Linked DNA regions of Homo sapiens. The protein of the gene in region 5 purifies or fractionates together with the protein of the main gene of each other region. This does not show direct contact. Each region holds a gene or a part of one and is shown on either strand. Other genes may lie near its edges. The genes, in order: DHCR7, LIMS1, OCIAD1, FXN, ACP6 and SUCLA2.

What was found.
Region 1: the proteins of ACP6 (region 5) and DHCR7 purify together in Homo sapiens (affinity purification with mass spectrometry, with the first as the bait; one large-scale study listed by BioGRID). This does not show direct contact.
Region 2: the proteins of ACP6 (region 5) and LIMS1 purify together in Homo sapiens (affinity purification with mass spectrometry, with the first as the bait; one large-scale study listed by BioGRID). This does not show direct contact.
Region 3: the proteins of ACP6 (region 5) and OCIAD1 purify together in Homo sapiens (co-immunoprecipitation; one large-scale study listed by IntAct). This does not show direct contact.
Region 4: the proteins of ACP6 (region 5) and FXN purify together in Homo sapiens (co-immunoprecipitation; one large-scale study listed by IntAct). This does not show direct contact.
Region 6: the proteins of ACP6 (region 5) and SUCLA2 fractionate together in Homo sapiens (co-fractionation; one large-scale study listed by BioGRID). This does not show direct contact.

What each region holds. Positions count from the first base shown.
Region 1 is NC_000011.10:71,441,702-71,446,741, forward strand, and holds part of DHCR7 (7-dehydrocholesterol reductase), read right to left. Parts: intron 3,258-5,040; 5' UTR 3,252-3,257; coding exon 3,154-3,251; intron 2,586-3,153; exon of another isoform or gene 2,515-2,585; coding exon 2,292-2,514; coding exon of another isoform or gene 2,256-2,291; intron 653-2,255; coding exon 562-652; intron 1-561. UniProt on the Homo sapiens protein: Oxidoreductase that catalyzes the last step of the cholesterol synthesis pathway, which transforms cholesta-5,7-dien-3beta-ol (7-dehydrocholesterol,7-DHC) into cholesterol by reducing the C7-C8 double bond of its sterol core.
Region 2 is NC_000002.12:108,537,194-108,542,233, reverse strand, and holds part of LIMS1 (LIM and senescent cell antigen-like-containing domain protein 1), read right to left. Parts: intron 1-5,040. UniProt on the Homo sapiens protein: Within the IPP (ILK-PINCH-PARVIN) complex, binds to F-actin, promoting F-actin bundling, a process required to generate force for actin cytoskeleton reorganization and subsequent dynamic cell adhesion events such as cell spreading and migration.
Region 3 is NC_000004.12:48,836,535-48,841,574, forward strand, and holds part of OCIAD1 (OCIA domain-containing protein 1), read left to right. Parts: intron 1-5,040. UniProt on the Homo sapiens protein: Maintains stem cell potency. Increases STAT3 phosphorylation and controls ERK phosphorylation. May act as a scaffold, increasing STAT3 recruitment onto endosomes. Involved in integrin-mediated cancer cell adhesion and colony formation in ovarian cancer.
Region 4 is NC_000009.12:69,073,144-69,077,595, forward strand, and holds part of FXN (frataxin, mitochondrial isoform 1 preproprotein), read left to right. Parts: 3' UTR 1-4,452.
Region 5 is NC_000001.11:147,656,613-147,661,652, forward strand, and holds part of ACP6 (lysophosphatidic acid phosphatase type 6), read right to left. Parts: intron 3,164-5,040; coding exon 3,035-3,163; intron 2,915-3,034; coding exon 2,784-2,914; intron 2,428-2,783; coding exon 2,348-2,427; intron 61-2,347; exon of another isoform or gene 6-60; intron 1-5. UniProt on the Homo sapiens protein: Hydrolyzes lysophosphatidic acid (LPA) containing a medium length fatty acid chain to the corresponding monoacylglycerol.
Region 6 is NC_000013.11:47,941,669-47,946,708, forward strand, and holds the end of SUCLA2 (succinate--CoA ligase [ADP-forming] subunit beta, mitochondrial precursor), read right to left. Parts: intron 1,778-5,040; coding exon 1,703-1,777; 3' UTR 988-1,702; downstream 1-987. UniProt on the Homo sapiens protein: ATP-specific succinyl-CoA synthetase functions in the citric acid cycle (TCA), coupling the hydrolysis of succinyl-CoA to the synthesis of ATP and thus represents the only step of substrate-level phosphorylation in the TCA.

The DNA.
Region 1 (5,040 bases), on a different chromosome or scaffold from region 5:
TGTGCAGTCTGATAGGGAGGTCAGGGCTGAGGGGCAGAAGCAAGTGAGGATGCCCCTGTGGTATGCCTGGCCCCCTCTGTAATTGTTGGGGAGCACCTCAGCCCATCCACCCCTCAAAACAGGGAGCTTCTGGGGGCAGAGTTGGGATGCGGTTCCAGTCTGCACCCACGTGAGAGGCACAAAGCCAGGCTCCTCGTGGGTTCTCAATGATGGCAAGGAATGAACAGACAAGGTCTCCCACGGACAGCCCCGAGGAATGGTGGTCTCTGCATGGTGGTCTCTGCAGGAAGCTTCATGGGCCGAGTGCATCCCCTGCTATGGGGCTGGGAAGGAGCTGGGCCATCCATTCCCTCCTTACCCAGGAAAGTGATTTCTAACCTGGGTGTGGGATGGCCCCAGCTGCCCTCAATGGTTTTGAGGCCTGGTGCTGTGAAAAATCCAAGCAAAATGGATTTCTATCCTGTGACAAGTCTTAGGGACAAAGCAGCGCTGGGGAGGACTGGCCCCTGAGAGAAAGGGATGAGAACGGGAGCCTGGGGAGGGTGGAAGGGAGGAGGCTACCTGCAGGAGTCACGGCCCCCTCCTGGATGCCTCCTACGTAGCCGGGTAGAAACTTATGGCAGAAGTCAGGGAGAGACGTGTACAGAAGCACCTGAAACACACAAGCAGCCTGATCACCCCCCGCCTGGAGGGCACCTGCAAAGGGGGACGCATAGCAGGAACATGAGAATCACAATCATAGTCTTTTTCTTCCTGAAGCACTTATGGCTCCTGGAAGCTCAAACTGCTGGGCTGTGGGTTTTGAAGGGGGTTCTGAGACAATAAACTCATCAACCAGGGAAGGTGCCAAGGCGTTCTCCCCCAGGGCTCCATTCGCCCCTCAGGAGAGCGCACAGGTCCCTCCCAGTCACCTTTTTAAAATGGAGAATCCCATAAAATTCAACTTTTTATATATATATATAAATCTATCTTTGAGATGAGGTCTTGTTCTACCACCCAGGCTGGAGTGTAGTGGTGCAATCATAGCTCACCGCAGCGTTGTCCTCCTGAGCTCAAGTGATCCTTCCACCTCAGCCTCCCAAGTAGCTGGGATTACAGGTGTGCACCACCACACCCGGCTAAAATTCACCCTTTTAAAGTGCACAATTCAGCGGCATTTAGCGCATTTACATGGTTGGTTGTACACCTATCACTGCTAATTCCAGAACTTTTCATCACCACAGAAGAAAATGTTGTTCCAATCTCCGGTCACTCTGAATTCCCTGTCCCTGCCGCCCCTGGCTGCCACTGAGCTTTCTGCCTCTGTGGATTTGCCTGTACTGGGTATTGCATATAAAGGGAACCACACAGTATGCAGCCTCTGTGACTGGCTTCTCTCGCTCAGCAGTGTCTTCAAGGGTCATCCGCCTACTGGCATCAGAGCTTCATTCCCTTCCGCTGCCAAATAGTGTCCCACAGTGGGCACAGTGTTCTGTTCTGTGGGTCCATTCATCTACTGATGGACAGGTGGGGGTTCCTGCTTTGTGGCTATTTGTGATTCACACTGCCCCTGTCATTTTTCACTCAAAGGGACCAAGAGATCTGAACTGAGAAGTATTCTGGAGCCCAGAAGCTTGGACCCTGGGGAGAAACAGCTAATCATGATCTGAGCCTTCCTCCCGCCCAGGAAGGAAAACCCAGGCCTGTCTCTTTCTAGCACCGTTTCCCTGGAAACCTTTTCCTGGGTTCAGGCAATCAGCACCACCCATGTGTGCACCAGGTTTACAACAACCCCTTCCTGGAACTCCCTCTGGACTGGGAGGCCAGTGGGGACACCATGGAGCTGAGGACGTCCTGGACCTGCCTCGACTGCCTGTGGGGAAACATGGCCCTCGCTTCTCTGAGTGGCATCTCATGACTGAGAGAGTCCCTTTGGGGACTGAGATGCTCCTTTCCAGACCTGGTGCAAGGCGTGACTCCTGCTGACAATGGGGCTTCCTCAGGACAGCACTGCCCTCCCACGGGGTTTTGCTCCTATCCTCAGCTTGTCCCTGCAGAGCTGGGCGTGCCCAGCAACTGCATGCAGGCATGCCGTGAAGGTGTATCAAACGCTGATGTGACAGGTGCCTCCTGCCTTACAGCTGAGGATGAATCTGAACATGTCAGAGTCCAGGGAATGCCCTGCTGGGTCCCGGGAACCCAGATGTCAACCTGAGCCAGGATCCATGTCCCAGACAAATGGAAGGACTACCCCAGCAGGAGGGCACGCTCCCCACCTGCTGTGTCCCAACCCCAGGGCAGGGGCTGCTGACCTGGAAGGTGACCCACAAGGTATAGAGCTGGGCGGCTTTCCTCGTTATAGGTGGAGTCTTGGCCCAGATGTCCGAGAGCCGAGCATGTCCGGTGACGATGTCCACCACAGGGCCAGTCAGGGCGCAGCTGTACTGGTCACAAGCCATGATGAAGTAGTAGACGATGAAGGGGGCGAACAGCAGTAGGAAGATGACGCTCGCCAGTGAAAACCAGTCCACCTCCCTGCGAGGACGGATGCAGGCAGTCACACTGGGGCCCATCTGCCCTGGGCCCCACCAGGACCCTAAGAGGCTCTGTGTGGGAGAACTGTTGCTCAAACCCACCAGTACCCCATGACAGAAGGCATTAGCTCCTAGCACGGGCCCTCCTTGCGGCCAGGGAAGCCACTCAACATGCCTGCTCTACTGTAGTTGATTAACTGGTGGCACTATCTGTGGCCCCCATGGAAGGCCCAGAGCTCAGAATATGAGCGGAGGTAGGTCTTTCACAACCACCAAGGCCAGTGGTTTCCCCAGTTCCAGGTCGGAGAGGATACTCACCCTGCACGAAGTCCCCATGGTTCTATGGCGAAATGGGAGCTGTGACAATAGGTCATACCCCCAGATGGTGGGAAGGCCCCAGCTGCCCTTTAAGCCTTTATCTTTTTTTCTAAGTTGTTGACTGACCATGATTTCTAGTTTCTTTTTATAATTCCTTACTTTATAAAGTGGAAAACTGTTTACCTTTCATTAGTCTTGACAAAAAAAAAAAAATCTTTTTTAAAAAGGTCCTTCATTCCTTTGGGTCCATACAATTCCAAAGGCTGGAAAGCTCTGAGACCACACTTTACTTTCTAGCTGGGAGAACAGGCAAGATCCTTACCAGGCACGGCCCCACTGCCCTTGAGATGCGGTTCTGTCATTGGTGACGCCATCTAGACTCTTGGCTTTGGGAATGTTGGGTTGCGATTTTGCAGCCATTGGGCCCTGCAAGAAAGAGAACCTTGCTTACATTATCCCTCAAATAACAGACACCACCTTTCCCTGTTGCATCCACCACTGCTCCTGGGCCTGGCAGGGCTGGCCTCCTGTGCACATCTTCCCGGTACCTTGTTCCTGACAGCAGATTCCAGGCAGGGAAGAGATCATCTTGTCTTAGACTCTCTTCCTTGGACCCTGCAATCACCTCCCACGTGACCTTGCTATGGCTGCTCTTGCTAGTCTCAGTTCATTCTCCAAACATGGCAGAATGCCCCCCCTCTTACAGCACAAGCTGGCTCCTGCCTCCCTCCTACACACCACTCTCCCCTATTCTCCTTTGGCTCCAGGAACACAGGGGTCTTCACTCATCCTTGAACACAGTTTAAATTGTCTGTGGCACTGACTTCCTCTGCTTAGAGCACGTTTGCAGGTGTCCTTGTTCAGGGCTCATGTAAAATGTCCCCTCCTGGGGAGATCTTCCCTCTCAGCCAATCTGAAGCAGCTGCTCCCCAGCTTCCCTGCCAAGGCCCTCCACTGGGTACTTTATTTTCTTAGTAACTCTCCCCATCGCCTAGAAGTATTCATTTGTGTGTGTGTATTGTCTGTCTCCCCTCACTAGAATGTAAGCTTCCCAAGGGCAGGAATTGTGTGTCCTCTTCATTGTTCTACTACCAGGGCCTAGAACAGTGGCCCATGTAGGACCATCAATAATCACCCTTCAAAAAAAAGGGGAAGAGAACACAGAATGTCTCTAGGTACCCACAGCTGCTCTACATGGTTATAATTTGGGGGAAGCAGTGACATCCCCACTTCCAGAACAAGTTCATAACTGTGAAGCTTTAAAATATCTGAGATTTTTTAAAAGATGCTCTTGAAAGCTTTTAGAGAAAAAACAGGAGTAAAAATCACAGTAGGCTTAGATTTCTCAACAGCAAGCTGGATTCTAGAAGACAATGATGAAAAACTTCAAAATTTTGAGGAAAACTTTTTGCAACCTAGAATTCTACTCCTATGTGAACTATTACTCAAGGACAACAACATAGGATCCAGGAAACTGGAGACCCAAGAGAGCTGCTGAAGCCATGTCCACAAAAGGGCAGGGGCAAGTCCCAAGAGGACAGCTATGCAGCAGGACTAACCAGAAACCAGTCCACATTGGTACAAGATGAATGGCTAGGAAAGAGAGGAAATGAAAATGATGAATTTTGTTGCATCTGAATGTGTAGGAAAATTATTGATATATGTGACAGCTCGGTTAGAGCATCCAGAAAAAAATGAATGAGAGATGCATAGAAACCTTACCAAATGAAAAAAAAAAAAAAAAAAAAAGGAAGGCAACTGTTAACTCCAGGAAAAATAAAAAGTCATATAAGGAAGGAAAAAAAGAAACCAAGCCATTATTATAGGACCTTACTTGGCTCAACAGTGAATAATGGTAATTTTGTCATAACAATGTATACTCTGACTATTTATTGACTATTGTATGCACAGAAGGGAATTTGCAAAGTTAGGGGTACTAAAAGGAAATTACTTAGAAACAAGTAGGTACAAACAACAACACAAAAGTAGCTGAAAGAATGAAAAGTGTTTGCTGCTGGCAAGCAAGACTGTCGGATGTGGGATGTGGTAGAGAGTATTTCTTCTGAAGCCTTTTAACACTGATTTTTAAAAAAATGTGTGCATGAATTACTTTAATAAAAATTCACACACATTTAAAAAATTTCAACGATGAAAGACATTTTCCTTATGCAGTGTGAGAACTTCAGTACCCGCACTTCATTCAATTTAC
Region 2 (5,040 bases), on a different chromosome or scaffold from region 5:
AATGTTTCATGATGTTGGGTCTCTGCCAGCAGTCTGTAATACACTGTAGAGTCAAGCTAAACCAAAGAAAATGATCCTGTTTTACTCAAAGTTTTGTGAATTTATTCAAACAACGTCAAAGACACTAAACAGAGCTAGCCCTGAACTTTTCGATTCACTAACAACAAATAAAAGGAGAAATAAAGCCTACTGTGCAGCTTGTTTTTCTTTGGATATTTAACAAATTTGATTAAGACATTCCTTTACTTCCAGAGATTACACTTTGGCAGAAAAGCTTAGACATATATACAAAAAACTATAAAACAAAACAGAAATTGGTAATTACCAAAAAAGAATTCAAAATGCTTTGGGAAAACAGAAAAAGCTCTGAATCCCTAATTCCCTACTACACAGCGGGGGCTAAATTAATGCTCCAGGAATTCGTTATTTTATGAGAGAAGCGGCAATTTTGTTCCAGCTGCCAAGAAAACACAAAAGATGATGATTTTCCAGGCCCAGAGAAGGGCATGAACAGCACTGAGGCAGGAAATCATCATTTTCAGAAAAAGGCAGTGGGTTAGAGAGACAAAGGCTAAGGAAACAGTGTGTGACAAGGCTATGAAGATGGGTTGGGCCAGATCACAAACAGCCTTAAATTCCAGGCGCTGGAGTTTGGACCTACTTGACAGGCAATAAGCAGCTTCTCAATATTTTGAAAACATGTGACCAAAGTAGTTCTTTAGAAAAATCTGAAACCAACATGGATGACAGATCAGTCAGGTGCACCTGCACTGTACCTGCACAGAAAAACAAATCCTGTTGAATCTACTGCACTGAGAAGGAGAAACAGCTAGCTGTGGCAAAAGCTGCAACTGCCTACCCAATGTCCATTCTCCCTCCCTTCCTCACTGTATTAACAAGGCAAATTTTAAAATGGACAGCAATGTGCCCAGCTTTAAAAGTAAGCAAACAAAAACAAAACAACAGCTACATTTACCAATGAGAAATAAACATATCTGTTTAAGTAGTTGGTAACATTTGTCACTCAGCTGATGCATTGGTAAGGAAGCCCGTCAATAGGAAGGGATCTCTCTGGGGAGGAAAAAGTTGCAAGCACCAGCACATGTGGCTAGGAATACCAGGTCTTCAACAACACTTCTGAAGTGTTCTTCAAAAGGAATCACTTGAAAGAGACTGACATCCAGGACACCTGTAATAGAACAATTCTGGGCCAATATCCATAATTCATTCAGACATTTCCAAATGTACTATGTTAATGGGCTCAGCTATAGGTCTTGGTCCTCAAGGTATTTACTCTATACTGTAGACAAAAAGATAAAATATATACACACAACAAACTGTAACAATGCAATGTGAATAAAGTAACAGAGCAAACCAACGTAATATAGCAGAGGAGACCCCACAATACAACCACATCTTGGGCTGTATTCCTAACCCTGCTGTTAACTGACTTTCGGCCTTGAATAAACTATTTTACCTTCTAGGCAAATCCTGTCCTGTAAAATAAAGAAGCAGTGTATTTAAATAAAGGGCTAATGCAGGGGACCCACTAAAGTGCATGAGTTCAGTAGGTTCCAACTTTTTCACATATAAACCCACTTTTTAAATGTTAAATAAATTTTCTTAGATCTTCATGTCACCATGATTGTCTTTTTAGCACGTTAACAGATAAAGCATGCACTATATAAATACTACCACGAATTCCACAAACCCTTTAAAAGAATCTGTACTTTATCAGCCAGGCGCGGTGGCTCAAGTCTGTAATCCCAGCACTTTGGGAGGCCGAGGCGGGCAGATCACAAGGTCAGGAGGTAGAGACCATCCTGGCTAACACGGTGAAACTCCGTCTTTACTAAAAATACAAAAAATTAGCCAGGTGTTGTGGCAGGCGCCTGTAGTCCTAGCTACTTGGGAAGCTGAGGCAGGAGAATGACTTGAACCCGGGAGGCGGAGCCTGCAGTGAGCCGAGATCATGCCACTGCACTCCAGCCTGGGCAACAGAGCAAGACTCCGTCTCAAAAAAAAAAAAAAAAAAAAAAAGGAATCTGTACTTTATCACCTGTTAAATGAAAATTAGAAACATTCACAAAACATCATTTGTTCCACTTCAAACACTTAGTATGTGCATAGATTTTTTTTTTCAAGCCAGTTGGAATAAGTTTACAGTCCACAGGACACTGGCTCTGCATTCTCTCAAGTCTTTCCCAGTCTTAATACTATCATCTTATGTTCATTTGAAAGATTTTCAGAACCAGGGTGAAAAGGAAATCAGTAAGAAAGGAGTGAAAAAAGAAAACGATGGATTCAAGAGAAAATTCGAAGGTAAGAACTCAGCAAGAAGGTGGCTATAGGGAGGGAAGGACAGGAAGAAACAAAAGCAACCATGTTAGGTGCCATTAGCAGCAGTATAAGTCCGGAGGAAAAGAACCAGGATGATGGGAAATGATGACTTCATTGAGCATCTACTATGTTCCTGGCATGGTGTTAAATGGTTTAAAAATGAAAACATACACGATTTTAAAAATCAAAACAGTACAAAAAGCTATACAACAAAAAATGTCCCTCTCATCCTGGATTCTCAGGTGCCTAGACTCCCTCTCCAGAAGCAACAATCACTAAAAATTTCATCGGTATCCTTTCAGAAATATTTGCATTTGCCTTCATATTTAGTTATCACAACAACCTCTGAGACAGGTGGGATTATTTTATAAATTAAGAATCTGAGGCTTAAAGACGCTGACAGGGCCAAAGTCAAAGAGCCATGAAGGGACAGAACTAGGACTAGAACATGGACCCAAACACTCATGCACATACTAACTCTACACTCAGAAAGCTATGAAAACTCTGGTAGCTGGGTGCAGTGGCTCGCGCCTGTAATCCCAGAACTTTGAGAGGCCGAGAAGGGCGGATCGCTTGAGGCCAGGAATTCAACACTAGGCTGGGCAAGATGGGGAAACCCTGTCACTACAAAAAATACAAAATATTAGCCGGGCATAGTGGCATGTACCTGTTGTCCCAGCTACTCAGAAGTCTAAGGTGAAAGGATCACCTGACCCCAGGAGGTTGAGGCTGCAGTGAGCCATGATTGCACCACTTTACTCCAGCCTGGGTGACAGAGTGAGACCTTGTCTCAAAAACAAAACAAAACAAAAAACACTCTGGCAGAGATGTTCAAAGTGTTTGTGATAATTAAAAAATAGAACCCAAATAACCACTAGTCAAGGACTGGATGTACAAATCATATCACATGTACACTGTGAAATACTATGCAGCCATTAAAACTAAGGTTAAAAAACATAAGGTAAACCCAGATACACCGCTCTAAGACAGCTTGTTGAAGTAAAAAAGCAATTGCAAGAAATGGGGAGTTGGTATTTACTGGTCACAGAGTTTCAGTTTGGGAAGATGAAAAAGTTCTTGGAAGGAAGGGTAGTGATGGTTGCACAGCAACGTCAATGTACATAATGCCACAGAACTGTACACTCAAAAATGGTTAAAATAGTAAATTTTGTTTTGCATGTTTTCCCGTAACTTTTTTAATACTAAAAAAAGCAATTGCAGAATAGTATGACTATGATTCCATTTTTGTAGAAAGGGAAAGTATGTGTAAACATTACTTGTAAATGCATGTTGTCTGTTATCTTGCTTTACCTTGCCTGCTACTCAGACATCCTGAAAGCCCTGGATTCCTGGTGTGCTGATGCTGAGTCCCGTGCCTCCCACTGCCAAGCACATACTCCCAGCAGCTGAACTACTGCCTTCACCTTTCTTCCTACCTCTCACAGAATGCACTCTTCAGCACTTGCTTTATCTGCAGCTGTCCCGCCCCACTGTTAAATGTCACTGAAGACTCATCAAGCTCCAAAACGTGCTCCAACGTGAAAAAAGATGCAGGAAAATGACTCCCTTACTCATTCCTGCAGTAAGCTCCAGGGTGGAAATGTGTGATATGATCAAATAAAAGAGATGAGATTATATCAGAAAGAGTGAAAAGGAAACCTCTGTTGCTGAAGAATGCACAGTATATGGCAACAGGTAGTGCAGCTCCTGCTTCTCAAGTGTCTTAAAATTAAAGTTTTTGGAAGACAATGTGGCAACAGTCCAGCATATAATGTAGATGACATCCCTGTGGGTGGAAAACCACAGCTTAAAGTGTAGTTACGAGAACTATAAAACTAACAAAATGGTTTGAGATGTTTTTCCTTCTATTTAAGTGCAAACCTAGGTAAGAACATGACCTATACTGAGGTTTATTTATTTAAATGATTATCCAAAGAGCAAACACAACATTATTGAAAATAGAGGCTTTCAGAGTAAAGCTCGGCTCTCCTGTTACTGATCTGCTGCAGCTATGGAAGTTTCTCTGACCCAGTGGAGGGGCTCCAAGGTCCCCCTCTCTAGGAGGAAAGGAAAGCCTACTTGTTGTACTCACATTTAGCAAAGGAAAGAACTGCCCAGGAGACAGGTCAAGGGGCTACAGCAAAGGGAAAAGGGTGGGAATGATCAAATAAAATCAAGACAGCACAATCCTGATGGACAGTTTTCTCTAAGCCTGCAAAAACCGGAACCACCAGAACTGAAATGATCTTTTGTACCACCAAACTTTCCTTAGCTTTCTTAAAAATCAACAGTTCGATTTTCTCACCATACAAACAGGCACAGAGCACTGAAAAGTGTGAATACACTTAGGCCCATGGCATTGTCCCTCTTCATAATGGCACTGGCCATTTTCTTATCAGGGAAAATCCTGAAAGGCAGAAAGTTGCTTCTTCCATGGTGGTCCAAGTCTTAGTTATTACATCCTACTAAAACTAGCCAAAACTACAAGGCACACACTACCACAAGCATTCAAGAGCAATTTTAAGAGAAACCTTGTATTTGTTCCTTTTTAAATATCCCCAATACCTGCATATCCTTCATCATTTAGGATTATGTCTTTAACAGTGGTTCTTAAAGTATGGCCTTGAACTCCTGAGGGTCTCCAAGACCTTTCTAAGGGATCCGAGAGATCAAAACTATTTTCATCATACTAAGATATTC
Region 3 (5,040 bases), on a different chromosome or scaffold from region 5:
GTTGGTGAATTCGCCAATAAATTAAGTGTAGAGATAAAAGCATAAAACTGATAATAGTTTCTGCCCTGTGATTAATACTTAGGATTGATAGAATAAAGGATAAAGTTTGGATAGTACCCATGGATAAGGGAACAAGTGATAGTGAAAGAATCAACAAAGACCAAGAGCAGTTAGGAAGATAGAGGAGCTCTGATAGAATCTTTGTCATTTTATCCACCAATATTCAGAGACTTGCAGGTATTTCAAGCTAGAAAGAACCTGAATAAGAATTAGGTGATGATGTCCATTTTAAATTTATGATGACTATGCATCTAAAACAGTTATTCTCAACTGGGAGCAGAATAACTGGAACGAGTTGAGAATAATTGTTATAGATGCATAGTCATCATAAAGTAAGGGCTTCTATAAAATTTTCATGGCTCATTAGAATGGGAATAATTTCTTTCTTTTTTTTTGAGACGGAGTCTCGCTCTATCCCCCAGGCTGGAGTACGGTGGTGCAATCTTGGCTCACTGCAAGCTCCGCCTCCTGGGTTCATACCATTCTCCTGCCTCAGCCTCCCGAGTAGCTGGGATTACAGGCGCCTGCCACCATACCTGGCTATTTTTTTTTGTATTTTTACTAGAGATGGGGTTTCACCGTGTTAACCAGGATGGTCTCCATCTCCTGACCTTGTGATCCACCTGCCTCGGCCTCCCAAAGTGCTGGGATTACAGACGTAAGCCATCGTTTTTTTTTTTTTGTTTTTTTTTCTTTTTTCGGTGTTCTTTTTTTTGTGACTGGGTTTCACTCTTGTTGCCCAGGCTGGAATGCAATGGCACAGTCTTGGCTCACTGCAACCCCTGCCTCCTGGGTTCAAGCAATTCTCCTGCCTCAGCTTCCCAAGTAGCTGGGCTTATAGGCGCCTGCCACCATGCTCAGCTAATTTTTGTATTTTTGGTAGAGAAGGAGTTTCACCATGTTGGCCAGGCTGGTCTCGAGCTCCTGACCTTGTGATCTGCCCACCTCGGCCTCACAAAGTTCTGGGATTACAAGCATGAGCCACTGTGCCTGGCCAGAATGGGAAGAATTTCTTAGAGAACTTGGCTGTATACTCCAGCAACAGTTCTTTTTTTTTTTTTTTTTTTTAAATCTTTGAAGATTATATAGAGTAGATAGGATAAAATGATCTATTTTTAAGTCTTGATGACACAGGATTAAGAAAAAGGCAAGTGTGATAGAGGGGATTTGGGATTATTGTAGTGTTGGGCTAACGGTTAAATAGATGCTAAGGTGTCCAGATTTATTTCTGGCTGATAAATGTATGCTGCTGCAGGTGTTTAACAATCTAAATAGCTGTGACAGGTTTATGCCAAAAGTACATTAAAGGGTAGTGAACAATGTCAGGATGCCCGTGTATACCAGACTCTTAATAGTGGGACATGTGGTATATGAACAGTACAAAGCTAAGTGATTTCTGTGCATTAAAACAGATAAATCACAGGTTGAAAAGACAAAAAGCGGCTGGGCTTGGTGGCTCACACCTGTAATCCCAGCACTTTGGGAGGCTGAGGCAGGCAGATCACCTGAGGTCAGGAGTTCGAGACCAGCCTGACCTATATGGTGAAACCCCGTCTCTACTAAGAATACAAAAATTAGCTGAGCATGGTGGCAGGTGCCTGTAATTCCAGCTACTCGAGAGGCTGAGACAGGAGAATCGCTTGAACCCGGGAGGCAGAGGTTGCAGCAAGCCAAGATCGTGCCACTGCACTCCAGCCTGGGCGACAGAGCGAGACTCCATCTCAAAAAAAAAAAAAAAGACAAAAAGCATGTGATAAGGACAGGCTGAAAGACAGCTTGTTAATTTTATACCATATCTACATTACTGAGAAATTACAGCAGCCAAAAAATTACTGTATTAATAGGTAGCATTTCACTCTCAAAACAGATAACCAAGGTGTTGTTGCATATTATAGCATCAAACATTGAAATGTAGAAGCTTGGTTGTAACCAGGTGATAGGAAGTTCAACGTATAATTATCAGAAGGATGATAATCATACATAGGAAATTTTGTACTTTAACATTTGTACTTTCGAATTAGATAGTCTATGCTGTATGTGACATTTATGTAAACAAATAATGGCATCTGTTACTTTGGAGAGTATCACCTTGGATTAGAAAAAGGTGATAAAAGCATTTACGAATTTATAAAAAAGCACTTACTAAGGTAATTTTTTATACATTTTTTAGGTCTGTTAAAATACTTATCCTCTTCTAAAATTAGACTTGTTGATCTAGGGACCATTCTCTTTCCTTAAGATAACTATGTTTCTATACTGACCTACATTCCATTAATCTGAAATATAACTATGAAGGCATCTTATTTCTAGGTGCTTAAAATCGTGACCCTATGCACTGACCTAAAATCACTATGTCTGTGCCCAAACACACAGGTAGTGAAGACCCTGTGCATATAGGGTCAGTTTATTGCATATTCATGTTAAAATAGTTCTCAAACTCCAGAATTACTAAAAAGATGTATCAGTTCATATTTGTATCAGCTGGAGTCTATGAATAATATTTCATATATGTGTACTACTAGTTTTCAAATGATACAGTATAAGAGTGATAAGAGTATGGGCCAGGCATGGTGGCTCACACCTGTAATCCCAGCATTTTGAGAGGCCGAGGTGGGTGGATCACTTGAGGTCAAGAGTTCAAGACCAGCCTGGCTAACATGGTGAAACCCTGTCTCTACTAAAAATACAAAAATTAGCCAGGTGTGGTGGCACATGCCTGTAGTCCCAGCTTCTTGGGAGGCTGAGGCAGGAGAATGGCTTGAACTCGGGAGGCAGAGGTTGCATTGAGTCAGGATTGTGACATTGCACTCCAGCCTGGGTGACAAAGCGAGACTTCATCTCAAAAAAAAAAAAAAAAGAGTATGGACTCTGAGGCCTGATTGGCTGGATTCAAATCCCAGCTCCACACACAGTAGCTGTGAGATTTTGGACAAGTTCCTGAGGTCTGTGCTATACTTTTCTTATCTATAAAATGGGGATAACTGCCTAGCTCATGAAATTATTATAGGGATTAATGCAATTTAATTAAGTGTTGGCTATCTTTATTAAATAGCTATTAGTGTTATTATGATTAATGAAATAAAAATTTTTATTGACTACAGTTAGGAATATAGAGTAGCTTTTTGTTACTGTGAGGGGAGAAGAGTTCAAATAATTGTAGGGATTCTTGTATATATTGAATATAGTTTGGGACTGTGGTAATAATGTGCACTAGGTTTTGGTCAGCAGTATTACTGATTTGCCTATAGAGACAGATTATTTAACAAAATAGATATTACATACTGTAGTGGAAAAGGCCACTGACTAGGGAGTCAGGAGACTTGGGTTCTGATCTCAGCATTACCACAAACTAACCAGCTGTGTTGCTTTGAGCAAATGACTTGTCTTTTCTGGATATTAGTGTACTCAGATTGGAATGAGGACTAGATAATCTCTGAAGCCTCTTTCAGTCTTACCATTGTCTTTTTCTGTGACATAAAGTAGAATACCTGAGTTGGAATGAGACCTTAGGTCTAATCCATTATTCCTTTATAGCATGAGAAGAAGCTATGCAAAGACATTGTGGTGAATGGCAGAACTAGTACTAGAATCTCCTCGAACAGACTATTACTCTGCATTAAATGGGGAAAGCATTATCCATTGTAGAAATGGCCAGCTAACTCATTGCCTTTTATTCTTATATGATTCTTCAGTGCTTCATGTTGCAATCCTTGAGTCAAGCTGGAGAAAAATGATTGCAAATTGTACTGGTGCTGTAATTAAAAGGGATTTGTCCTTTGCAAAACCTTAAATGATAAATGATAATGCATGAAGGCATTCTAACTAGCCAACATTAAAGAAACCATATTTCCAGCAAAGGTAAAATCTGTTAGTAAGTAGGATAGCATGAATTCAGACCTTAGCGTTTGTGCAATTTGTGTGTGATGGCAAAGTTAATGCCCTATTCCAAAGTGATGGATTTTAATCATGAAATCTGTAATAATTCAAATGTCTTAATTACTTTGGTTCTTAAATTGTCCATATATGGTTTAGACCAGAGTTGAACAAACTAGCCCATGGACCAAATCTGTTTTTGTATGCATGAGCTAAGAATTGTTTTTACATTTTTAAATGGTTAAGAGGCTGGGTGCAGTGGCTCACGCCTGTAATCCCAGCACTTTGGGAGGCTGAGGTGGGCTGATTACTTGAACCAAGGAGATCGAGACCAGCCTGGGCAACTTGGCGAAACCTCATCTCTACAAAAAAAAAAAAAAAAAAGAAAAAAGACAAAAAATTAGCCAGGCATGGCGGTGCATGCCTGTAGTCCCAACCACTTGGGAGGCTGAAGCAGGAGGATCATCTGAGCCGGCAGGTTGAGGCTGCAGTGAGATGAGATTGTACCACTGCATTCCAGCCTTGGTGATAGAGTGAGACTTTGTCTAAAAACATAAAATAAGATAAAATGGTTAAGAAATCAAAGGAAAAGAATATTTCATTACGTGTGAAATTACATGAAATTCATATGTTTGCATCTAAAAATAAAGTTTTGTTGGAACACAGCTACGTTCATGTGTTTTTGGATTGTCTTTCGGTGCTTTTGCTTTAAAACGGCAATTGAGTAACTGGGACAGAGATTGGCCCACAAAACCCAAAATATTTACCATCTGGCTCTTCATAGAACGTGTTTGCCAACCTCAGGTCTGGAACAGCACTGTCCAGTGTGGCAGCCAGTAGTCACATGTAGCAATTTAACTTTAAAATAACTTGCAGTGAAAGGATATAAAGCAAAATCATAAAAGGAAAGGGAGCATGGGGTGAAGTCCGGCGGAAACCAGGTCCCAAGAGTTCTCTTCCCAGGGAGTGTAAATTTCTCCAACAGCTAGTCATAACAATGTGTGAAGTTGTATCTACCCGGGGAACTCATTAGAGACTCAGTGCCCACAGTTTTTATTGGGGGCTGGTCACTTATTCACCCTCTGCCTAACAGGTACCAAAATTCCA
Region 4 (4,452 bases), on a different chromosome or scaffold from region 5:
GAAGTACATGAAGAGCAGCTGGTCAACCTGCTCACTGTTCTATCTCCAAATGAGACACATTAAAGGGTAGCCTACAAATGTTTTCAGGCTTCTTTCAAAGTGTAAGCACTTCTGAGCTCTTTAGCATTGAAGTGTCGAAAGCAACTCACACGGGAAGATCATTTCTTATTTGTGCTCTGTGACTGCCAAGGTGTGGCCTGCACTGGGTTGTCCAGGGAGACCTAGTGCTGTTTCTCCCACATATTCACATACGTGTCTGTGTGTATATATATTTTTTCAATTTAAAGGTTAGTATGGAATCAGCTGCTACAAGAATGCAAAAAATCTTCCAAAGACAAGAAAAGAGGAAAAAAAGCCGTTTTCATGAGCTGAGTGATGTAGCGTAACAAACAAAATCATGGAGCTGAGGAGGTGCCTTGTAAACATGAAGGGGCAGATAAAGGAAGGAGATACTCATGTTGATAAAGAGAGCCCTGGTCCTAGACATAGTTCAGCCACAAAGTAGTTGTCCCTTTGTGGACAAGTTTCCCAAATTCCCTGGACCTCTGCTTCCCCATCTGTTAAATGAGAGAATAGAGTATGGTTGATTCCCAGCATTCAGTGGTCCTGTCAAGCAACCTAACAGGCTAGTTCTAATTCCCTATTGGGTAGATGAGGGGATGACAAAGAACAGTTTTTAAGCTATATAGGAAACATTGTTATTGGTGTTGCCCTATCGTGATTTCAGTTGAATTCATGTGAAAATAATAGCCATCCTTGGCCTGGCGCGGTGGCTCACACCTGTAATCCCAGCACTTTTGGAGGCCAAGGTGGGTGGATCACCTGAGGTCAGGAGTTCAAGACCAGCCTGGCCAACATGATGAAACCCCGTCTCTACTAAAAATACAAAAAATTAGCCGGGCATGATGGCAGGTGCCTGTAATCCCAGCTACTTGGGAGGCTGAAGCGGAAGAATCGCTTGAACCCAGAGGTGGAGGTTGCAGTGAGCCGAGATCGTGCCATTGCACTGTAACCTGGGTGACTGAGCAAAACTCTGTCTCAAAATAATAATAACAATATAATAATAATAATAGCCATCCTTTATTGTACCCTTACTGGGTTAATCGTATTATACCACATTACCTCATTTTAATTTTTACTGACCTGCACTTTATACAAAGCAACAAGCCTCCAGGACATTAAAATTCATGCAAAGTTATGCTCATGTTATATTATTTTCTTACTTAAAGAAGGATTTATTAGTGGCTGGGCATGGTGGCGTGCACCTGTAATCCCAGGTACTCAGGAGGCTGAGACGGGAGAATTGCTTGACCCCAGGCGGAGGAGGTTACAGTGAGTCGAGATCGTACCTGAGCGACAGAGCGAGACTCCGTCTCAAAAAAAAAAAAAAGGAGGGTTTATTAATGAGAAGTTTGTATTAATATGTAGCAAAGGCTTTTCCAATGGGTGAATAAAAACACATTCCATTAAGTCAAGCTGGGAGCAGTGGCATATACCTATAGTCCCAGCTGCACAGGAGGCTGAGACAGGAGGATTGCTTGAAGCCAGGAATTGGAGATCAGCCTGGGCAACACAGCAAGATCCTATCTCTTAAAAAAAGAAAAAAAAACCTATTAATAATAAAACAGTATAAACAAAAGCTAAATAGGTAAAATATTTTTTCTGAAATAAAATTATTTTTTGAGTCTGATGGAAATGTTTAAGTGCAGTAGGCCAGTGCCAGTGAGAAAATAAATAACATCATACATGTTTGTATGTGTTTGCATCTTGCTTCTACTGAAAGTTTCAGTGCACCCCACTTACTTAGAACTCGGTGACATGATGTACTCCTTTATCTGGGACACAGCACAAAAGAGGTATGCAGTGGGGCTGCTCTGACATGAAAGTGGAAGTTAAGGAATCTGGGCTCTTATGGGGTCCTTGTGGGCCAGCCCTTCAGGCCTATTTTACTTTCATTTTACATATAGCTCTAATTGGTTTGATTATCTCGTTCCCAAGGCAGTGGGAGATCCCCATTTAAGGAAAGAAAAGGGGCCTGGCACAGTGGCTCATGCCTGTAATCCCAGCACTTTGGGAGGCTGAGGCAAGTGTATCACCTGAGGTCAGGAGTTCAAGACCAGCCTGGCCAACATGGCAAAATCCCGTCTCTACTAAAAATATTAAAAAATTGGCTGGGCGTGGTGGTTCGTGCCTATAATTTCAGCTACTCAGGAGGCTGAGGCAGGAGAATCGCTGTAACCTGGGGGGTGGAGGTTGCAGTGAGACGAGATCATGCCACTTCACTCCAGCCTGGCCAACAGAGCCATACTCCGTCTCAAATAAATAAATAAATAAATAAAGGGACTTCAAACACATGAACAGCAGCCAGGGGAAGAATCAAAATCATATTCTGTCAAGCAAACTGGAAAAGTACCACTGTGTGTACCAATAGCCTCCCCACCACAGACCCTGGGAGCATCGCCTCATTTATGGTGTGGTCCAGTCATCCATGTGAAGGATGAGTTTCCAGGAAAAGGTTATTAAATATTCACTGTAACATACTGGAGGAGGTGAGGAATTGCATAATACAATCTTAGAAAACTTTTTTTTCCCCTTTCTATTTTTTGAGACAGGATCTCACTTTGGCACTCAGGCTGGAGGACAGTGGTACAATCAAAGCTCATGGCAGCCTCGACCTCCCTGGGCTTGGGCAATCCTCCCACAGGTGTGCACCTCCATAGCTGGCTAATTTGTGTATTTTTTGTAGAGATGGGGTTTCACCATGTTGCCCAGGCTGGTCTCTAACACTTAGGCTCAAGTGATCCACCTGCCTCGTCCTCCCAAGATGCTGGGATTACAGGTGTGTGCCACAGGTGTTCATCAGAAAGCTTTTTCTATTATTTTTACCTTCTTGAGTGGGTAGAACCTCAGCCACATAGAAAATAAAATGTTCTGGCATGACTTATTTAGCTCTCTGGAATTACAAAGAAGGAATGAGGTGTGTAAAAGAGAACCTGGGTTTTTGAATCACAAATTTAGAATTTAATCGAAACTCTGCCTCTTACTTGTTTGTAGACACTGACAGTGGCCTCATGTTTTTTTTTTTTTTAATCTATAAAATGGAGATATCTAACATGTTGAGCCTGGGCCCACAGGCAAAGCACAATCCTGATGTGAGAAGTACTCAGTTCATGACAACTGTTGTTCTCACATGCATAGCATAATTTCATATTCACATTGGAGGACTTCTCCCAAAATATGGATGACGTTCCCTACTCAACCTTGAACTTAATCAAAATACTCAGTTTACTTAACTTCGTATTAGATTCTGATTCCCTGGAACCATTTATCGTGTGCCTTACCATGCTTATATTTTACTTGATCTTTTGCATACCTTCTAAAACTATTTTAGCCAATTTAAAATTTGACAGTTTGCATTAAATTATAGGTTTACAATATGCTTTATCCAGCTATACCTGCCCCAAATTCTGACAGATGCTTTTGCCACCTCTAAAGGAAGACCCATGTTCATAGTGATGGAGTTTGTGTGGACTAACCATGCAAGGTTGCCAAGGAAAAATCGCTTTACGCTTCCAAGGTACACACTAAGATGAAAGTAATTTTAGTCCGTGTCCAGTTGGATTCTTGGCACATAGTTATCTTCTGCTAGAACAAACTAAAACAGCTACATGCCAGCAAGGGAGAAAGGGGAAGGAGGGGCAAAGTTTTGAAATTTCATGTAAATTTATGCTGTTCAAAACGACGAGTTCATGACTTTGTGTATAGAGTAAGAAATGCCTTTTCTTTTTTGAGACAGAGTCTTGCTCTGTCACCCAGGCTGGAGTGCAGTGGCACGATCTGGGCTCACTACAACCTCCGCCTCCTGGGTTCAAGCAATTCTCTGCCTCAGCCTCCCGAGTAGCTGGGATTACAGGTGCCTGCCACCACACCCGGCTAATTTTTGTATTTTTAGTAGAGACGGGGTTTCACCATCATGGCCAGGCTGGTCTTGAACTCCTGACCTAGTAATCCACCTGCCTCCGCCTCCCAAAGTGCTGGGATTACAGGCGTGAGCCACTGCACCCAGCCAGAAATGCCTTCTAATCTTTGGTTTATCTTAATTAGCCAGGACACTTGGAGTGCATCCCGAAGTACCTGATCAGTGGCCCCTTTGGAATGTGTAAAACTCAGCTCACTTATATCCCTGCATCCGCTACAGAGACAGAATCCAAGCTCATATGTTCCATCTTCTCTGGCTGTATAGTTTAAGGAATGGAAGGCACCAGAACAGATTTATTGAAATGTTTATTAGCTGAAGATTTATTTAGACAGTTGAGGAAAACATCAGCACCCAGCAGTAAAATTGGCTCTCAAAGATTTTCTTCTCCTGTGGAAAGTCAGACCTCTGAGGCCCCATCCAGGTAGAAGTACTAGTGCAAGAAGGGCCTCTGCTGTCCACTTGTGTTTCTGTGA
Region 5 (5,040 bases):
TTTACCAGTTTTGTGTCCCTGGGCAAGTCACTGAGCCTCTCTGTGTCTTGGTTCTCTTATCTGTAAAAGGGGATAATGACACCTATCTTATAGGGTTACTACAAGAATTAAACAAGTTAATATATGCGAAGTTCTTAGAACAAAGTTTGCTGCATACAATTGGTCCTCCATGTCCTTGGATTCTACATCTATGGATTCAATCAACCATGGATTAACAATATTTGAGTAAAAAAGAACAATACAAAATAACACAATAAAAATAACATAAATTAGAAAATAGTACAGGGTAATACACAGCATTTACATTGTATTGGGTATTATGTCATCTACAGATGATTTGAAGTACATGGGAGGATGGGCATAGGTTATATGCAAAGCTATGCCATTTTATAAAAGGGACTTGAGCATCTGTAGATTTTGGTATCTGCCCGGGGAGAGGGTTGTCCTGGAATCAATCCCTTTTGGATACTGTGGAATGACTGTACTAAGTCCTTTATGTGTTAGAATAACTATGACTTAAACTTATAACACTAATAATATTATAAACCTCTAATATTTCCATCTGGAGTCTGATATTGGTGTCTGGATTTTGGACCCAGTTTATGATAAATAAGGCACACTTGAGTAGACAAATGTACATTGAGCAAATGACTTGGCCAGTGGGCAGACCAACAATCTCCAGCTTTCCCCACAGCCTGATTCTCTGTAGCCTATACGTAACCACTGGGATTTTTCTAGGATTTTACTCCTAAAGCAATATCCCAAAGTTGCACCATTTCCATCAACAGTGCCACCTTCTGGGATTCTTTTTTTGTTTGTTTGTTTTTTGAGATGGAGTCTCGCTGTCACCCAGGCTGGAGTGCAGTGGTGCGATCTCGGCTCACTGCAACCTCCGCCTCCCGAGTTCAAACGATTCTCCTGCCTCAGCCTCCTGAATAGCTGGGATTACAGGCGCCCACCACCACGCCTGGCTAATTTTTGTATTTTTAGTACAGATGGGGTTTCACCATCTTGGCCAGGCTGGTCTTGAACTCCTGATCTCATGATCCACCCGCCTCAGCCTCCCAAAGTGCTAGGATTACAAGCGTGAACTACTGTGCCTGGCCCCTTCTGGGATTCTTTGTTCAAGTCCCTTCATATAGGAAAGGCATGGAAGTAGCTACAAAAGAAGCCAATCTGGAGTCCCAACAACTGTAGGTCCAGCGCAGGGAGCTGCTACCCAGACACCTGCACCTGAGGCTAGTGATTTCCTTCCCTGATGGAAACCTGGGATATTCCCAGTCTGGGACCTGCCTAAAGAGAATGTTGCCACCAATAAACATCTTTCCTTCTCAGTACCACTTCTGATGTTTCTGAGAAGATCTTTGCCTTTTAGAAGCTGAGCAGTTGAGAGCTTTCAGAAGATCAGGTGCTGTGGATCACTCCTAAACTCAAGGCTTCCCAAGAAGTAAGGGGCAGCCCATCCTGCTTTATGTGACCTAGACACGTACTGTTTGTGTGCAGCAGCCAACTACAGCCAGAACTAGCAGCAGTATCCAACCCAGTTGAGGGCAAGACCAGATTCCTCTTTCCTGAAGGTTCCATTATTTTACATATTTCTTAAAAAATGTGATGGAAATTTTGTTTCTATTTGAGATACTGCCAAAAAGCTAAACAAAGTAACAAGAACCTTTGCTTTTTGGCACCTTTTTAATAAGGTCATGATGATCTGAAACTCAGACCAGTAATTAAATGTAAATTTGAGCCAATAACAAATGACAAAATGCAGCTTCATGTGATGGCCAAAGGCTCTCAACACATGGGATCCATGAGGGAAAATAATTAATGCAGTCCTTGGGGATGAAAAGGTTGGGAACCACTGACTGCAACCATTCAGGGGCTGAATGTATCAAAACCCAAACTCGATGGACTTTCTCAACTAGGAAAGGCTAGACGGAACAGTGTTCATGCTGTGGATTATCACCAAGATTAGGGCAGTAGCAGCAGTGTTGGGTCCCAGTGTCCTTCCTTTCCAGCAATGTCTCACCTAAATAAAAAGCCCCCTCGATTGTTCACAAAACATGGTTAGGACTGCCTTGTGCAGCTTGTGTAGAAGCTTGAGGGGAGAAGCCAGGAGCCAGAGGCAGATCAGAGCAGCTGCTACACTGCTGCTGCTGTGGAGGTCAGGCTGGCAGGGGCACCATAAGGCCAGACAGGGAAAGACCCACTGGACTAGGTACACACTGGAAGTCACACATGCAGGAGAAAAAAAGTCAAGGGAACAGGCACCAAGAAAGAGATAGGGGCTTCGGAAGTGAGAAGCAAGACCCCTCAGGGACAGGGACTGACTGGGACCCCAAATACGAACCTTCTTTCTGACACTGGAAAAGCCCAGCCAGCAAACAACGGGTGGACTCCAGATTCCGAAAAATGTTAGTGGAACGAATACTGAAAAAAATGAGAAAATAGTGACACTCATAAAAGGAATATTTAATTATATACACTCTATTTTATTCCACATACGCTCCAGGGGTCTTTCAAGAGTACATAAGGAGAGCTATGGAACTAGGAAGAATGCTTCACTTTTCTGTGGGATGTCAGCCCCTGAGAGACTCGAAGTGCAATGAATGCGACCTCCAGGAACGACCTGTTCACCAGATCCTGTGACATAAGGGTATGCAGCATGACAAGTTGTCCCCCAAACTACCTTGGGTGACAGTGGGAACCATCTTGGGGAGTCAGGACAGGTATCCTCATGTTCAAGACCTTAAATTAAGTGCAACATCCCCTTTCAAGTGACTCACAAGACCTCCTGTGGGTTGAAGGTTGGTGAAAGAAAGGGAATGTCTTCCACATAGTTCTTCCTCAGTCTCTCTCCCAAGGCAAACATTTGCTGCATGCCCACCTTGGTCAGCTGCCCAGCAAACATGCCCCCCTAAAGTAGGGAAGAAAGAGAAAGAAGAATGAAAACACCTGACAGCCTGCTGAACTCAGCCCAGAGAAAACAACCCAACCTTTGCAGTGGGGCTCCCCAGAGCAAGGAAGCATTGCTCACCTTCAGGGTGGTCTCATGGTATTGAGAGTCGTAAGGAGAATATGGTTTCGGACCACCAGCTAGATTGGTGACTGTGTAATCAAACTGAGTTTGGGGTGGGACCTCTAATAGCTGGGGGTTCCACTCTACCTGTTAGTACAAAAAAAACACACCACATTGTTTAAAAATGGTTCTTGAAATGTATAGCATTAACATCTCAAGCACTCAGAACACATGGCTGGAATCACTGACACTAGGCCTGCAACCTTCCTATGGGATGGAAGGAAAGAAATGTTAGCTAAAATTAAGGGAAGAAAAGATGGTGATTTATTATTCCAGGTGTCCTTAGCCTATGTCCTGTTATTGCTACACTAGTAATGACTGCTAAGGGGCTGCTCTGGCACTTAGCCCACACTGAAGTAAAGGGGAGAAGTGACCAGAATGCCTGGCATGCGGATACGTGGTGAATGAACGAATAGATGGATGAAAGAAATAAGATGTCAGTGACCATATGTAAGAATTTATAAGGAATTAATCTGGAGGTTTATATGCCCTATCCCAGCTTAAGGATTCTACTTAATGTCCCTTGTAACTAATATACTTTTTTCCTCCTTTCATGCAATTCGTGAAACAAGCAGCTGCCATCTCAGAAGATGTTGCTTTTTCATCATCTTCCATTATTCCTTGCAATCTGGCTCCTGCCCCAACTGTGCTGTAATGATTTCAAAACATCACTAGTGGCCACAGGTCTCATAGCTCCAACTGTTCATAAAACTCTGACACTCATTGAGTCAGATGTGAATACTTCAATTTTAAAAACAAGTCTAATCCCATAGACCAGTTCCCCTTCCCAATCTACTATGTCCCTCTCAATGTTACCACAGTTCTCCTAGGCCCCAAACCTCAAACCTTTGGCTCCCTGTGGATCCACTATCCCCACACCAAGCCCTGTTGATCACTGCCTAGAAGAAAAGTCCCTCCCAATGGTCCTTCCATTATCTTATTGTAGAATGTAAACCTTATTAGTGCCTGTGACAAACTCCTCCCTTTCACCTGCACAATCCATCTATCCATAGCCAACTAATTAATCTTTTTGGAAAAAATATTTTTATTGCATTTAAATATTTTGTTTTATTTTTAATTGACAAATAATTGTATATTGTATATATTTATGGAGTACAATGTGATGTTTTCATATATATTTACATTTGATATATGATTAACTAATGTAAACAAAATCCATCAGCTCACATACTTTCATTTTTACGTGATGAAAATATGTAAAGTTAACCTTTTAGTAACATAGGCATACATCATTTTATTGCTCTTTACAGAGATTGCATTTTTCACAAATTGAAGGTTTGGAGAACTCTGCATTGAGCAAGTCTATCAGTGCCATTTTTCCAACAGCATGTGCTCATTCATGTCTCTGTGTAAAATCTGGTAATTCTCATAATATTCCAAACTTTTTCATTACTATTAAATCTGTCAAGGTGATCTATGATTTATGATTTGTTTTTCTTTTTGAAATGGGGTCTGGCTCTGTTGCCCAGGCTGGAGTACAGTGGCATGATCTTGGCTCACTGAAACGTCTGCCTCCTGGAGTGCAGTGGCATTACCTTGGCTCATCCTCTCACCTCAGCCTCCCGAGCAGCTGGGACTACAGGCATATACCATCATGCCCAGCTAATTTTTTTTTTTTGAGAGACAGGGTTTTGCCATGTTTCCCAGGCTGATCCTGAACTCTGTGATCTTTGATGTTACTATTTTAACTATTTGGGAGCGCCACAAACCGCCCCCATATAAGATGCCAAACTTAATCAATAAATGTTGTGTGTTTTCTGAGTGCTCTGCTGACTGGTATTTCCCCCATCTCTCTCCCTCTCCTTGAGCCTCCTTATTTCCTGAGACACAACAATATTAAAATTAGTCCAGTTAATAACCCTACAATGGCCTCTAAGTGTTAAGTGAAAGGAAAAGTTTCAAGTTTCTCACTTTAAATCCAAAGCTAGAAATGATTAAGCTTA
Region 6 (5,040 bases), on a different chromosome or scaffold from region 5:
AAAAAGAACCATGTGACTACAATCTGTCTAAAAATATCCACCTGTTACCATATAAAACATCATACAGACTTTGGGAGTCCGAGGCGGGCAGATCACGAGATCAGGAGATCAAGACCATCCTGGCTAACTCGGTGAAACCCTGCCTCTACTAAAAATACAAAAAATGAGCTGGGTGTGGTGGCAGGCGCCTGTAGTCCCAGCTACTCGGGAGGCTGAGGCAGGAGAATGGTGTGAACCCCAGAGGCGGAGCTTGCAGTGAGCTGAGATCGTGCAACAGCACTCCAGCCTGGGCAACAGAGCGAGACTCCATCTCAAAACAAAAACAAAAACAAAAACATCATACAAATTTAGACATGTCCAAGACCAAAAAATAAACTCAGCTTCTCTCTTCCTCAGTAAAATAGTTAAGAAAAGGCTTTGAAGTTAGGCATCTTGGATTCAATTCTCCCCTCTGTTTCCTTTAGAGGATATACTAGATGGCATACACATAAATAGCAGACTTCCAGTGAACTATCTATCTATAAGTAGCTGTATAATATGTATGGTTGGCTGGGTGCAGTAGTTCATACATGTAATCTCAACATTTTGGGAGGCAAAGCCAGGAGGATTGCTTGAGCTCAGGAGTAAGAGACCAGCCTAAGCAACATAGTGATACCCTGTCCCTACCAAAAAAAAAACAAAAATCAAAAACAAAAAAAAACACATATGTTTTTTTGTGGTGTGTGCCTGTAGTCCCTGCTACTTAGGAGGCTCAGGTGGGAGGACTGCTTGAGCCCAGGAGGCAGAGGTTGCAGTGAGCATGATCATACCACTGCACTCCAGCTTGGGTGACAGAGTGAGACCCTGACTCAAAAAAAAAAACAAATCACTGTCATGGCAAGTATATGATCTAAGAATTGGTGCTTAGACCTCTATACTGCAATAACGAACAAATCAACTTCTACTGTGTTTACCTCAAAACAAGCAAACAAAAGCCATGAACCCAAATCATATTGGGAGATTTTTATTAACTTAAATTGACATTCTTAATTTTGTCTGTAAGTCCTTGGTATATATGCCTTTATTTGAAGCAAACCTACAGGTGTTTCTTAATATGACAGAATCATGAAGACTTGCAGTTAATCAGTGTTTCCTAATGATTAAAACAATGTTCAAATAATTACAAAGTTACTTCATCAAAATACTTAGAAGAATATTCTGAGGAGTGTTTGAAAGCTCTGTTTATAAATAGTGATTGATACATTTATCATGTATTTGGTGCTGAAGATAAACACTTTTTACATAAAACATTGTTTTAATATACTGCTCTACTAATGAGGCTAGTTATTAGATATACTGTATTTTAACACTAAAGAATAAAGCTTTATCTTCGTATTTATCTTATTTATAGGACTCTTATCAATGAAGAACTTTGTATCCAACAATAATAAACTGGCAAATTGCAAGTTACGTTTTGTAGGAGAAGCAAAAAAGACTGGCTGCGACAAAAGAAAGAAGATAACTGCATTATACATGCTTCGTACAAACAGTCCATTCTGAATGGTACAATTAAATGCAGTCCAAATCCTTTTAAATGTTTGTGTGCCTAGATGGCAATTACAATCTCCACACACTAAAAAGAAAAAGAACAATAACACAGAACACAGTATTCTTAATGATTATAGCACATTTAACACCTTCAGCCATCCACTGGGTTTTCAGATCATATTGGCAACTGAAATTTCACATCCACATGTGCTTGCTTCGCTAAGGTCACTATTTCAGAGAGCTTTACAACCTAAAAGAAAAGAACGAAGAATTTTCACAAAAAGGTAAATTCAGAACTACAGGTCAGTGCAAAATTAATGTACACTCAATTTTTTCCATTTAAAACATCTGGACTATTCTGACATTGCTATAAATCACATTACGTTCTTATAAGCAAATGACATTCTCAAAGGATAATCAAGTCTGACACTCCTCATAGTCCAAACTTCAATTAAATACTTTCTGATTAAGATGTTATACCACCTGCTAGGATTACACATATGTATTACATAAGATTATATATGTGTGTATAAAATGTGTGTGTATGTATGTGTGTGTGTGTGTGTGTGTGTATATATATATATATTATTCTAAATTTTATCTTAAAGACAGAAACAGTGAGTGTCTTTGTTGGATACTCCACAACTCAAAGCACATCTAAGTAAAAATTTGTTTTGAAATAAGTATACAATCTTAACTTAAAATGTTGGGATAGAAATTTGGGTCTACTAGTTAGTATTTTACTTTTTGTCAGTAAGTTAACAATTGCTAACCTGAGTTCCAATTCTCTCTACAATCTGTCTAAAAATATCCACCAGTTACCATACAAAACATCATACAAATTTAGACATGTCTAAGACCAAAAAAACAAACTCAGCTTCTCTCTTCCTCAGTAAATTAGTTAAGAAAAGGCTTTGAAGTTAGATATCTTTGGCTGCAAATCCCCCCTCTGATGCTTATGACATACAACCTTGAATAAGTTAACTTATCTAGCCTGTTTCTTCATCTATAAAAATGGAAATTTTATCACCAAATTCATATTAAATGAGATAATCCTTGAAGAAAACAGCTTAGCATTGCATGCACAGTAAACACTCAATAAACAGTAGTAACTGCTAATATCATCATCATCTCATTCAATATTATTATTGTTATGACTTCTATAATCTCCCAGTCAATAAAAACACTGTAGTCATAATTTAAATCAACTGTTCACTTTTACCTCTCATGATCTATTTGATCAAGGTCCTACTGGTTCTTCTCCTTCTTTTCATGTCCTCCAAGCTTTTCTTAATTTAAGTTTTCATTCCAAAAAAGTGCACTTTCAGAGACAAGTTATAACCTATTTATTACCTTCACCTTTTCTCATATCTAAGTATTGCACTAGATGGACTCCTACTATCTCTCCCCTTTTCCCTTCAATATATCCCACATCTCAAAGTCAAAATAGGCTTTCTGAAATACTTTCTCCTACTATTCCCTTGCTCAAATTCTTTATTTTTAATTCAGGTTTAAGTTTAAATTCTTCTGTCTCCAAGCTAGAGTTAAATTTTGTTTACTAGTAAGTACTTTCCCAAAGAAGGACATAAGACTTTTATTATTTTTGTGAAATGACATCACATTAACTCGGTAAATTCAAGAGTCTGGCCAAGCCTGGGGGCTCATGCTTGTAATCCCAGCACTTTGGAAGGCCGAGGTGGGAGGATCATATGAGGTCTGGAGTTCGAGACCAGCCTGGTCAACATGGCAAAACCCTATCTCTACTAAAAATACAAGGCTGGGCGCAGTGGCTCACACCTGAATCCCAGCACTTTGGGAGGCCGAGGCAGGTGGATCACAAAGTCAGGGGTTCAAGACCAGCCTGACCAACATGGTGAAACCGCATCTCTACTAAAAATACATAATTAGCCAGGCATGGTGGTACATGCCTGTAATCCCAGCTGCTTGGGAGGCTGAGGCAGGAGGATTGCTTGAACCTGGGAGATGGAGGTTGCAGTGAGCCGAGATCACACCACTGCACTCCAGCCTGGGCAACAAGACCAAAACTCTGTCTTAAAAAAAAAAAAAAAAAAAAAAAATTAGCTGGGCGTGGTGGCACACACCTGTAGTCTCAGCTACTCAGAAGGCTGAGACACAAGAATTGCTTAAACCCAGGAGGCAAAGGTTACAGTGAGCTGAGATCACGCCACTGTACTCCAGCCTAGGTGACAGAGCAAGACTCAGTCTCAAAAAAAAAAAAAAAAAAAAAATCAAGAATCTACTATTGATTAAGCTATAGAGCCCAAAGAGTGTTCGAGTGTTCAATGAAATGTCTATAAACATAATGGAAGGGAAGACAAAAAATTCTCATCTCTCTGTATCTACTATGAAGTGTTCTCTGATACACATTATTGTTAAGTAAAAGAAACAAAGTATAGATTACCATTAATCTAAAGTGGGAAAAGGGAGACACACACACACACACACACACACACACACACACACACACACAAAGTCCCCCCCTTATCCAATTTCACTTTCTACAGTTTCAGTTACCTGCAGTCAACTGTGGTCCAAAAATTTTAAATGAGAAATTCCAGAAATAAAAAAGTCATTAAGTTTTAAACTGTGTGTTGTTCTGAGAAGTGTGATGAAATCTTGCACCATCCTGCTCCAAGTGGAATGTGAACCATCTCTTTGCCCAGCGTATCCACGCTGTATAAACTACTCTTCCATTAGTCATCAACATTATCTACTCTTGACATCCAACAATCAACATCATGGCTCAATGATCCAGGATGAACCAAAGCAGATGATTCTCCTTCTGTTACATCATTAGGTCAGTAGTAGCCTAACACTATGTCACAATGCCTTCATCATTCACCTCAGTTCATCTCACCAAGTAAGCATTTTATCATCTCATTATCACCACAAAGGTGAGTATAGAACAATAAGATATTTTGAGAGACCACATTCACATTTATCACGGTATATTGTTATAATTGTTCTACTTTATTATTAGTTGTTGTTAATCTGTTACTATGTCTAATACATAAACTTTATCAAAGGAATATATGTACAGGAAGAAGCACAGTATATACAGGTTTGGAACTATCTGTGATTCAGGCACCCACTAGGGGTCTTGCAACACATTCCCTGCAGATAAGGGGGGACTACTGCACACATACATATAGTTATATACATACAATTAGCTTATGTTTTTAAGAAGTGGAAAGATAAACCAAAACTTTCTTAAAAAACAAACAAAAAAAAAAGGTAAAAAGGTTGCCTGTTGGGGAAGAAGTAAAGAGGGAAATATATAAAAGCTAGATTCCCTGATAATACCTTGTTCTATACTTTCCACTTTGGAATCATGTAAATACAAAATAAAAAACAAAAGGTTGTGTTTTTTTTTTTTTAAAAAAAGCAATCCCTTTAAAAACAATGAAACTATACAAAGCTGAGACAAAACACACAGAGAATTATTTCACATGAATTTTAAAATCCACTAAGTTGTGGGACATACCCTAAAGG